Linked DNA regions of Homo sapiens. The protein of the gene in region 1 interacts with the protein of each later gene in a pairwise test. Each region holds a gene or a part of one and is shown in the gene's direction. Other genes may lie near its edges.

Region 1 (4,208 bases):
CTGGGAGGTATTTGAGGTTGCTGGGTATTGGGTGCGGGAAGGAAAAGCCCATGACCCTGCCCCTCCACACCCTGCCCTACAGAAGGCAGATGGGACCTGTAACACCAACTTCAAGAAGACGCAGGCACTGGAGCAGGTGACAAAAGTGCTGGAGGACTTCGTGGATGGAGACCACGTCATCCTGGTGAGTGGGACACCCATGTCCCAGAATGTAGCAGCTTAAGACAGCCACCATTTATTCTTGCTCCAGAGTCAGTGGTCTTCTGCTTTGGGTGGGGCTGGACTGATACTGGCTGGCTTTGCTCAGTCTGAGGTCAGCTGGTGGCTTGGCAAGGCTGGCTGGTCCAGGGGGCCCTGCTCCCAGCTCTGCCGGTTGGCTCATGACTTGGCCGCACGTCTCTCGATAGCAGGATGGCCTGGGCTTGCTCTCACAGTGGAGGCAGGGGGCCAAGAGAACAAGTAAAAATGCAAGGCCTCTTGATGCCTGGGCTCAGAATGGCCACCATCATTTCTGCCGTTCGGCAAGTCATGTGACCCAGCCTGGATCGAGGGGTCTGGAGACAGACTCCGCCTCCGGATGGGAGTGGAAATTCATGGAATCCACCACTCTTCTCCATGCCACCTTGATGAATCCAAGCCCTCACTCCTCTGCCCTGTCTTCCCCATGGCTCCCCTATTCCATCCTGGCTAGAGCCTGCCTGCTCCTTTGGGGGAATGGGGTGAGGTCAGAGCTCAAGGTGGGCAAGGCCCCACAAAGTCCCCATGCTAACCAAAGAACGCTCCCTGTCACACAGCAAAAGTACGTGGCATGCCTAGAAGAACTTCGTGAAGCTCTGGAGATCTCCCCCTTCTTCAAGACCCACGAGGTGCGAGCCCTGGCTTCCATGGGTGGATGTATGGGTGTCGGGGTCCAGGTGCATGGAGGGGAAACCATTGATGAGTTACAGGTCAAAGATATAAAAAGGGGCTGGGCGTTGTGGCCCGCACCTGTAATACCAGCACTTTGGGAGGCTGAGGTGGGAGGATTGCTGGAGCCCAGGAGTGCCAAGACCAGCCTGGGAAGCACAGCAAGACCCCGTCTCTATTTGGAAAAAAAAAAAAAAAAAAAGGCCGGGTGCAGTGGCTCATGCCTGTAATCCCAGCACTTTGGGAGGCTGAGGCGGGCGGATCACTTGAGGTCGGGAGTTTGAGGCCAGCCTGGCCAACATGGCGAAACCCCGTCTCTATTAAAAATACAAAAATTGGCTGGGTGCGGTGGCTCATGCCTGTAATCCCAGCACTTTGGGAGGCCGAGGTGAGCAGATCACGAGGTCAGGAGATCGAGACCATCCTGGCTAACACAGTGAAACCCCGTCTCTACTAAAAAATACAAAAAATTAGCCGGGCGTGGTGGCGGGCGCCTGTAGTCCCAGCTACTTGGGAGGCTGAGGCAGGAGAATGGCATGAACCCGGGAGGTGGAGCTTGCAGTGAGCCGAGATTGTGCCGCTGCACTCCAGCCTGGGCAACAGAGTGAGACTCTGTCTCAACAACAACAACAACAACAACAAAATTAGCCAGAAATTGCTTGAACCCAGTAGGCAGAGGTTGCAGTGAGCTGAGATTGTGTCACTGCACTCCAGCCTGGGCAACAGAGTGAGACTCTGTCTCAAAAAAAAAGCAAAGCTAGGCATGGTGGTGCACACCTGTAGTCTCAGCTACTCAGGAGGCTGAGGCAGGAAGAGGGCTTGAGTCCAGGAGGTCAAGGCTGCAGTGCATTTTGATTATGCCTCACACTGAACATTTGCTGTGTATTTGCTATGTACCAAGCACTGTCTTAAGCACTTAATGTAGATTAATTCCTACATATAATATGCCCAGCAGCCTCTGAGGTAAATGATCCTACAGTCGACCCCTTATCCTCAGGTGATCTCCTCCAAACCCCCAGTGGATGCCGGAAACTGTGGATAGTACTGAACTATAGACTGTGTTTTCTCGATCTGATAACCAAGATGGCTCCTAGGTGACTAGTGGGTGGGTTGCGGATACAGCATAGACTTGCTGAACAAAGGGATGATTCGCATCCCAGGTGGGACGAAGCGGGATGGCACGAGATTTCATCACAGTAGTTAAACCAATGTGCAACTTAAAACTTACACATTGTTTGTTTCTGGAATTTTCCACTTAATATTTTTGGATCGCACTTGACTGAGAGTAACTAAAACCAAAGAAAATGAAACCACGGACTGGGGAGACTAACTGTATTACTCTCACTTTGTATATGAGGACGCAGAACCACAGAGAGGTTAAGACACCTGCCTAAGGCTGCACAGACAGGAGGTGGCACAGCCAGGATATGAATCAGGCAGCCAGGCTCCAGGGTTCATGCTGTCAATCACCCTGCTCTGCTGCCTGTCAGGAAGGGACCTTGGCCAGTGCCTGCTCCTCCCTTAACCTCCCGTCTCTACCCCGGCAGGTGGTAGGCAGCTCCCTCCTCTTCGTGCACGACCACACCGGCCTGGCCAAGGTCTGGATGATAGACTTCGGCAAGACGGTGGCCTTGCCCGACCACCAGACGCTCAGCCACAGGCTGCCCTGGGCTGAGGGCAACCGTGAGGACGGCTACCTCTGGGGCCTGGACAACATGATCTGCCTCCTGCAGGGGCTGGCACAGAGCTGAGCTGCTCAGCCACCATCAGGTTAATTGGATGGCGCCAGTCTGGCTGGAGGAGCCCTGAGATGCCATGGGAGGCCTGAGGTTGGCCACGGGGGAGCTGGCCTCCAGGGACGGGAGAGATTGTGTCATGTGCCACACGAGACCAACGTGGAAAAGTCTGAAGGGCCTTGGGAGACCAGGTAGCACCTGGCCCCATCATGATGCAGGGGTTTTGGGGACCTGGAAGGAAGGTGATGAGGCAGTGAGTCAGAAAAACCAGAACGGGGTCCCCGGATCTGCCGGGAAGGCTTCTGAGGGGCTGCCCTGAGAGCATTCAGTTCACATGTCACAGGGTATGGTGTGACAGGGTGCCTGTGGACACATGAATCACTTCTAACCTGCCTCCCTGTCAGCCTCCAGGCTGCCAGCTGGCTGAGGCCAGGGACTGGGTCAGGCTCATCTGTGGCGCCTCAGAGGGTCAGCATCATTGGTGAACAGATGCAGGCGCTGCTGGACCATCTGGGGAGAGTGACAGTCCATGTCTTCACCAGGGAGCCATTTGAGTGCTGAGCGACAAGAGGCTCAGAGGGCATGACCCCATGGGACTGGATGCGGCCTGAGGGCTGATACCGCTGGGCGGTATCCTGCCCTGCTGTGGCCCTGTGGGATCCTCCGTGTTCCTCGGCGGACTCTGCTGACCTCCTGCAGACCCAAACCACAGCCACATCCCAGCTTCTGTGCCAGCACTGTGACAGTACCTCGCTCCTCTGTGCACCAGATCCGGCCTCAGGACTTACACCTCCTGCCTGACCCCCAGGCTTCTCTCTCCTTTCTCCCAGCAAACTGCAGTGGCAGAAAGGAGGTTCAGAGGCTGGGAAAGTGGGCCTCCCCTTGCAACTCAGAGCTGCTGCACTCAGGAGGGCCCCATCCAATCCCGGGCCCCTGCAGGGAAAAGCGCTGGGTGTGTGTCAGAGGCGCAGGGTGGGTGGGGCTGCCAGCCAGGACCCTGGCCTGCAGCCTGATCCAAACCAAAGACTGTAGAACCCTGGGGTGTGGCTAACGGCCCCTCCAGCACCCATAGCCAGGTCTTCCTGGCCCTTGAGGCTGGGCTGGCGGACAGGCACCTACCTCTTCCTTAAGCTGAAGCTCCCACACTGTCTTCCAGGGCTGAGGAGATGCTCTCCTTTTCTACTGACCATCTTGATACTTATTTATACGAGAGGCAGTTGCTGGACGGGGTAGTACTGGGAAGCAGGAGGCAGAATGGCTCTGCTGAGCCTCCTACCCATGACAACACCCCAATAAACAGAACATTCAGAGCCAATGTCGTAGAGCTTTTTATTTTGCATCTGGAGTGTATTTGGACACGTGGGCTGGGTGGGGTAACAGGATAATGAGCAGTTTGGGAAAGAGGCAGGCTCCAAGCAGGCTGGTTCACTCACTTGGCAGTCACTGGGCGGCTATTCTTGTGCCTGGATGTGTTACAATGCAGGGGACACAGTGGTGAGCAAGGCTGCTCCAAGCCCTGGCTGGGATGGGGGATGCACAGACAGGCTGATCAGGGCTGGGATGGTG
Region 2 (3,500 bases), on another chromosome or scaffold:
ATGGTAGTGCCATTGCACTCCCATCTGGGCAATAAAGCGAGATCCTATCTCAAAAACAAATTTTTTTTCTTTAATAATATATTAAACTTAGCTTACTGTTAAGTTTTTACTTTATAAATGTTTCAGTTTTTAAAAACTTTTGGACTTTTTTGTAATAACACCTAGCTTAAAAGACAAGTACATTGTATAGCTATAGAAAATAATTTTTCTTTATATCTTTATAGGCTTTTTCTATTTAAAAAGTTTAAATTTTTTTTTAACTTTTAGAATATTTTGGTAAAAATGAACACACACACACACACACACACACACACACACACACACACACACTGAGCCTAGGTCTACACAGGGTCAGGATCATGAATATCCCTGGCTTGCCCCCCTACATCTTTATCCACTGGCACACCTTCAGGAGCAGTAACAGGCATGGAGCTGTTATCTCCTAGGATAACAATACCTTCTTCTGGAAGTCCTCCTGAAGGACCTGCCTGAGGCTCTTGAGGAGATGTCACTCTTTTCAGAAATTTGCCCATGGTGTTTTGCTTGGTTTATTTCTATTTTTCATTGTAGATTTGTTTGTAAGCAGTTAATGCAGCATGAACATTCCTGTGTATTAATGAAAACCTTTCTGTTTTTGGGGGTCCATGTTTTCACACTTCCTAAGGAGTTTGTTGAGGTGTGCAAAAGCTTCTCCCAAACCCTTCACTGTGAGTTTTGTTGGGGGTTCTTTTTCTTTCTCCAGCAAACTTCCTTCTCTCTTGCTGCTTCTTCAGCTTTGCATTCCTATTCCAGTTCCCACTCATTAGTCAATTCCTGCGATGTTATTGTGGCTATAACGTTACTAGATGACAGGAGTTTTTCAGCTCCATTTAACTACAGTCCATTGTTGACCAAAACATCATTTTGTGGCACACAACTGTATTTAGCTATTTTAGTGGTTGGGTAGCTGCTATCGTTTTTTCAGTGAAATTTGAGTAGTTAAAATGAGTCAAGTAGTAGCTGAAAGCATGACGAAACTTATAATAGGACTTTCTTTACTTGTAAATGATACAATATGGTATGGCTAGATTAAGTCTTTTAAAAATACTCATAGATTTCAACTTGGTTCCATAAAGCTGGAAGTGGAAACATTGGACATATATCAGAAATTCAATTGAACGCCTCCTTTTAAATTTATGGTTTACAGACTTGTGGCTCTTAGATCCCAGGGGATCTAAAGTAGACTGTGTTATAAAGTAGGCACATAACAAGACAACAGCCAATTTAAAAATATTAAATGAACTTGCTAATTCTCCATGATATTATATATATAAACTTTGTACCTAATGTAAACTGAAGGTAGTTATTAGCATTTCCAGGTTAGAAAACATAACTGGACTTCCCTTATCCACTTTTTTTTTTTTTGAAACGGAGTCTTGCTCTGTCGCCCAGGCTGAAGTGCAGTGTCACAATCTCGGCTCACTGCAACCTCCATCTCCCAGATTCAAGCAATTCTTCTGCCTCAGCCTCCCAGGTAGCTGGGATTACAGGTGTGTGCCATCACACCCGGCTAATTTTTGTATTTTTAGTAAAGACAGGGTTTCACCATGTTGGCCAGGCTGGTTTTGAACTCCCGACCTCAGGTGATCCACCTACCTTGGCCTCCCAAGGTGCTGGGATTACAAGCGTGAGCCACACCACACCCGGCCCCTTATCCATTCTTTTATGCTCTGTTACTACAGCAAATTATTCTCAGACATAGCTCCATCTTGGTAGTAGTGTTCTTGTTATTATCAGTAACAAAGTACATTAAGCTACTGCCTTTTGTTTTATTCTGTTTTGTTTTGTTTTATTTTGAGACAGTGTCTTGCTCTGTTGCCCAGGCTGGAGTTCAGTGGCGCGATCTCAGCTCACTGCAACCTCTGCCTCCCACGTTCAAGCGATTCTTCTGCCTCAGCTTCCCGAGTAGCTGGGATTATGGGCACTTGTCACTACACCTGGCTAATTTTTGTATTTTTAGTAGAGGTGGAGTTTTGCCATGTTGCCCAGGCTGGTCTTGAACTCCTGACCTCAAGTGATCTGCCTGCCTCAGCCTCCCAAAGTGCTGGGATTACAGGCGTGAGCCATGGTGCCCGGCCGAGACTTCTAAAACATAGGTGTCATTAGGACAGTTCTATAGGAGAAATAAATGCCATTTTAGTATTATGACTACTTTTCTTTCATTTTCTTTAACCATAGTTTCATTTTTAACACCTGTTCTATAGATAGAAAAACAAAGATACTCATGTCATCTAGTGTCTTGTCTCATTTATAACTTGTTCCCTGAATCAGCTTCAAGTCTTTCATGTTTATGTGTAAAACATAGGGCTGGGCGCAGTGGCTCACTCCTGTAATCCCAGCACTTTGGGAGGCCGAGGCAGGTGGATCACCTGAGGTCAGGAGTTCGAGAGCAGGCTGGCCAACATGGTGAAACCCTGTGTCTACTAAAAATGCAAAAATTAGCCAGGTGTGGTGGCATGCTTCTGTAATCCCAGCTACTCAGAAGGCTGAGACAGAAGAATCGCTTGAACTCAGGAGGCGGAGGTTGCAGTGAGCTGAGATCGTGTCACTGCATTCCAGCCTGGGTTGACAGAGCAAGCCTCCATCTCAAAAAAACAAACAACAAAAACCATTATAATTTATGCACACACAAATATTTAAAATGACTGTCACCTTTTTATACTTAGAATTGATCATTTATGATACATAGTATCTTAGAATTTTTTCCCCACGTACTGGTGCTGTGGATGTGAAATCATGGTGATTTATTAGGTTTAATTTGTCATGTAAAAGAATTGTGTTCTGTTTGTTCTCTATACATTTAAATATTTTAAATTATTATTATTATTTTTTTGTAGCTGTCCCCTTTCCTCCAACCCAACGGCTTACTTTCAAGGAAGTATTTGAGAATGGGAAACCTAAAGTTGATGTTTTAAAAAACCATTTGGTAAAGGAAGGACGACTGGAAGAGGAAGTAGCCTTAAAGATAATCAATGATGGGGCTGCCATCCTGAGGCAAGAGAAGACTATGATAGAAGTAGATGCTCCAATCACAGGTATAAAAAGTCTTTGCATGATACTTTTTTACAGTATAGATTTGCATGAGCAGTTTTGAGAAATAATTACAAATAACCAGCTAAAAAGTGGTGTGGTAATTTTTCTAGAAATTATGAGACAGTCAGGATTGGTTAGGATATTTGTTGTTAATTGAAGAAATACAATTTTAAGTGTCTCATATTTCCAGTAGAACTATTTAGTATGAGTAGATTGACTACAGTTTTACAGCAGTCCTGTCAAAAGCTGGAGTGATTTAAGTTAGAAGTTAAACTGTGATCCCTTTTGGTGTAATGCCCTTCGTCTTCTAAGGTATAATTTCTCACATCACTTTATGCTTTTTTTCCTAGTATGTGGTGATATTCATGGACAATTCTTTGACCTAATGAAGTTATTTGAAGTTGGAGGATCACCTAGTAACACACGCT

The links.
Region 2: the proteins of ITPKC (region 1) and PPP3CC interact in a two-hybrid assay, tested with the Homo sapiens proteins (one large-scale study listed by BioGRID and IntAct).

What each region holds. Positions count from the first base shown.
Region 1 is NC_000019.10:40,736,904-40,741,111, forward strand, and holds the end of ITPKC (inositol-trisphosphate 3-kinase C), read left to right. Parts: intron 1-82; coding exon 83-184; intron 185-794; coding exon 795-866; intron 867-1,903; coding exon of another isoform or gene 1,904-1,948; exon of another isoform or gene 1,949-2,453; coding exon 2,454-2,657; 3' UTR 2,658-3,957; downstream 3,958-4,208. UniProt on the Homo sapiens protein: Catalyzes the phosphorylation of 1D-myo-inositol 1,4,5-trisphosphate (InsP3) into 1D-myo-inositol 1,3,4,5-tetrakisphosphate and participates to the regulation of calcium homeostasis.
Region 2 is NC_000008.11:22,472,078-22,475,577, forward strand, and holds part of PPP3CC (serine/threonine-protein phosphatase 2B catalytic subunit gamma isoform), read left to right. Parts: intron 1-2,876; coding exon 2,877-3,074; intron 3,075-3,422; coding exon 3,423-3,500. UniProt on the Homo sapiens protein: Calcium-dependent, calmodulin-stimulated protein phosphatase which plays an essential role in the transduction of intracellular Ca(2+)-mediated signals. Dephosphorylates and activates transcription factor NFATC1.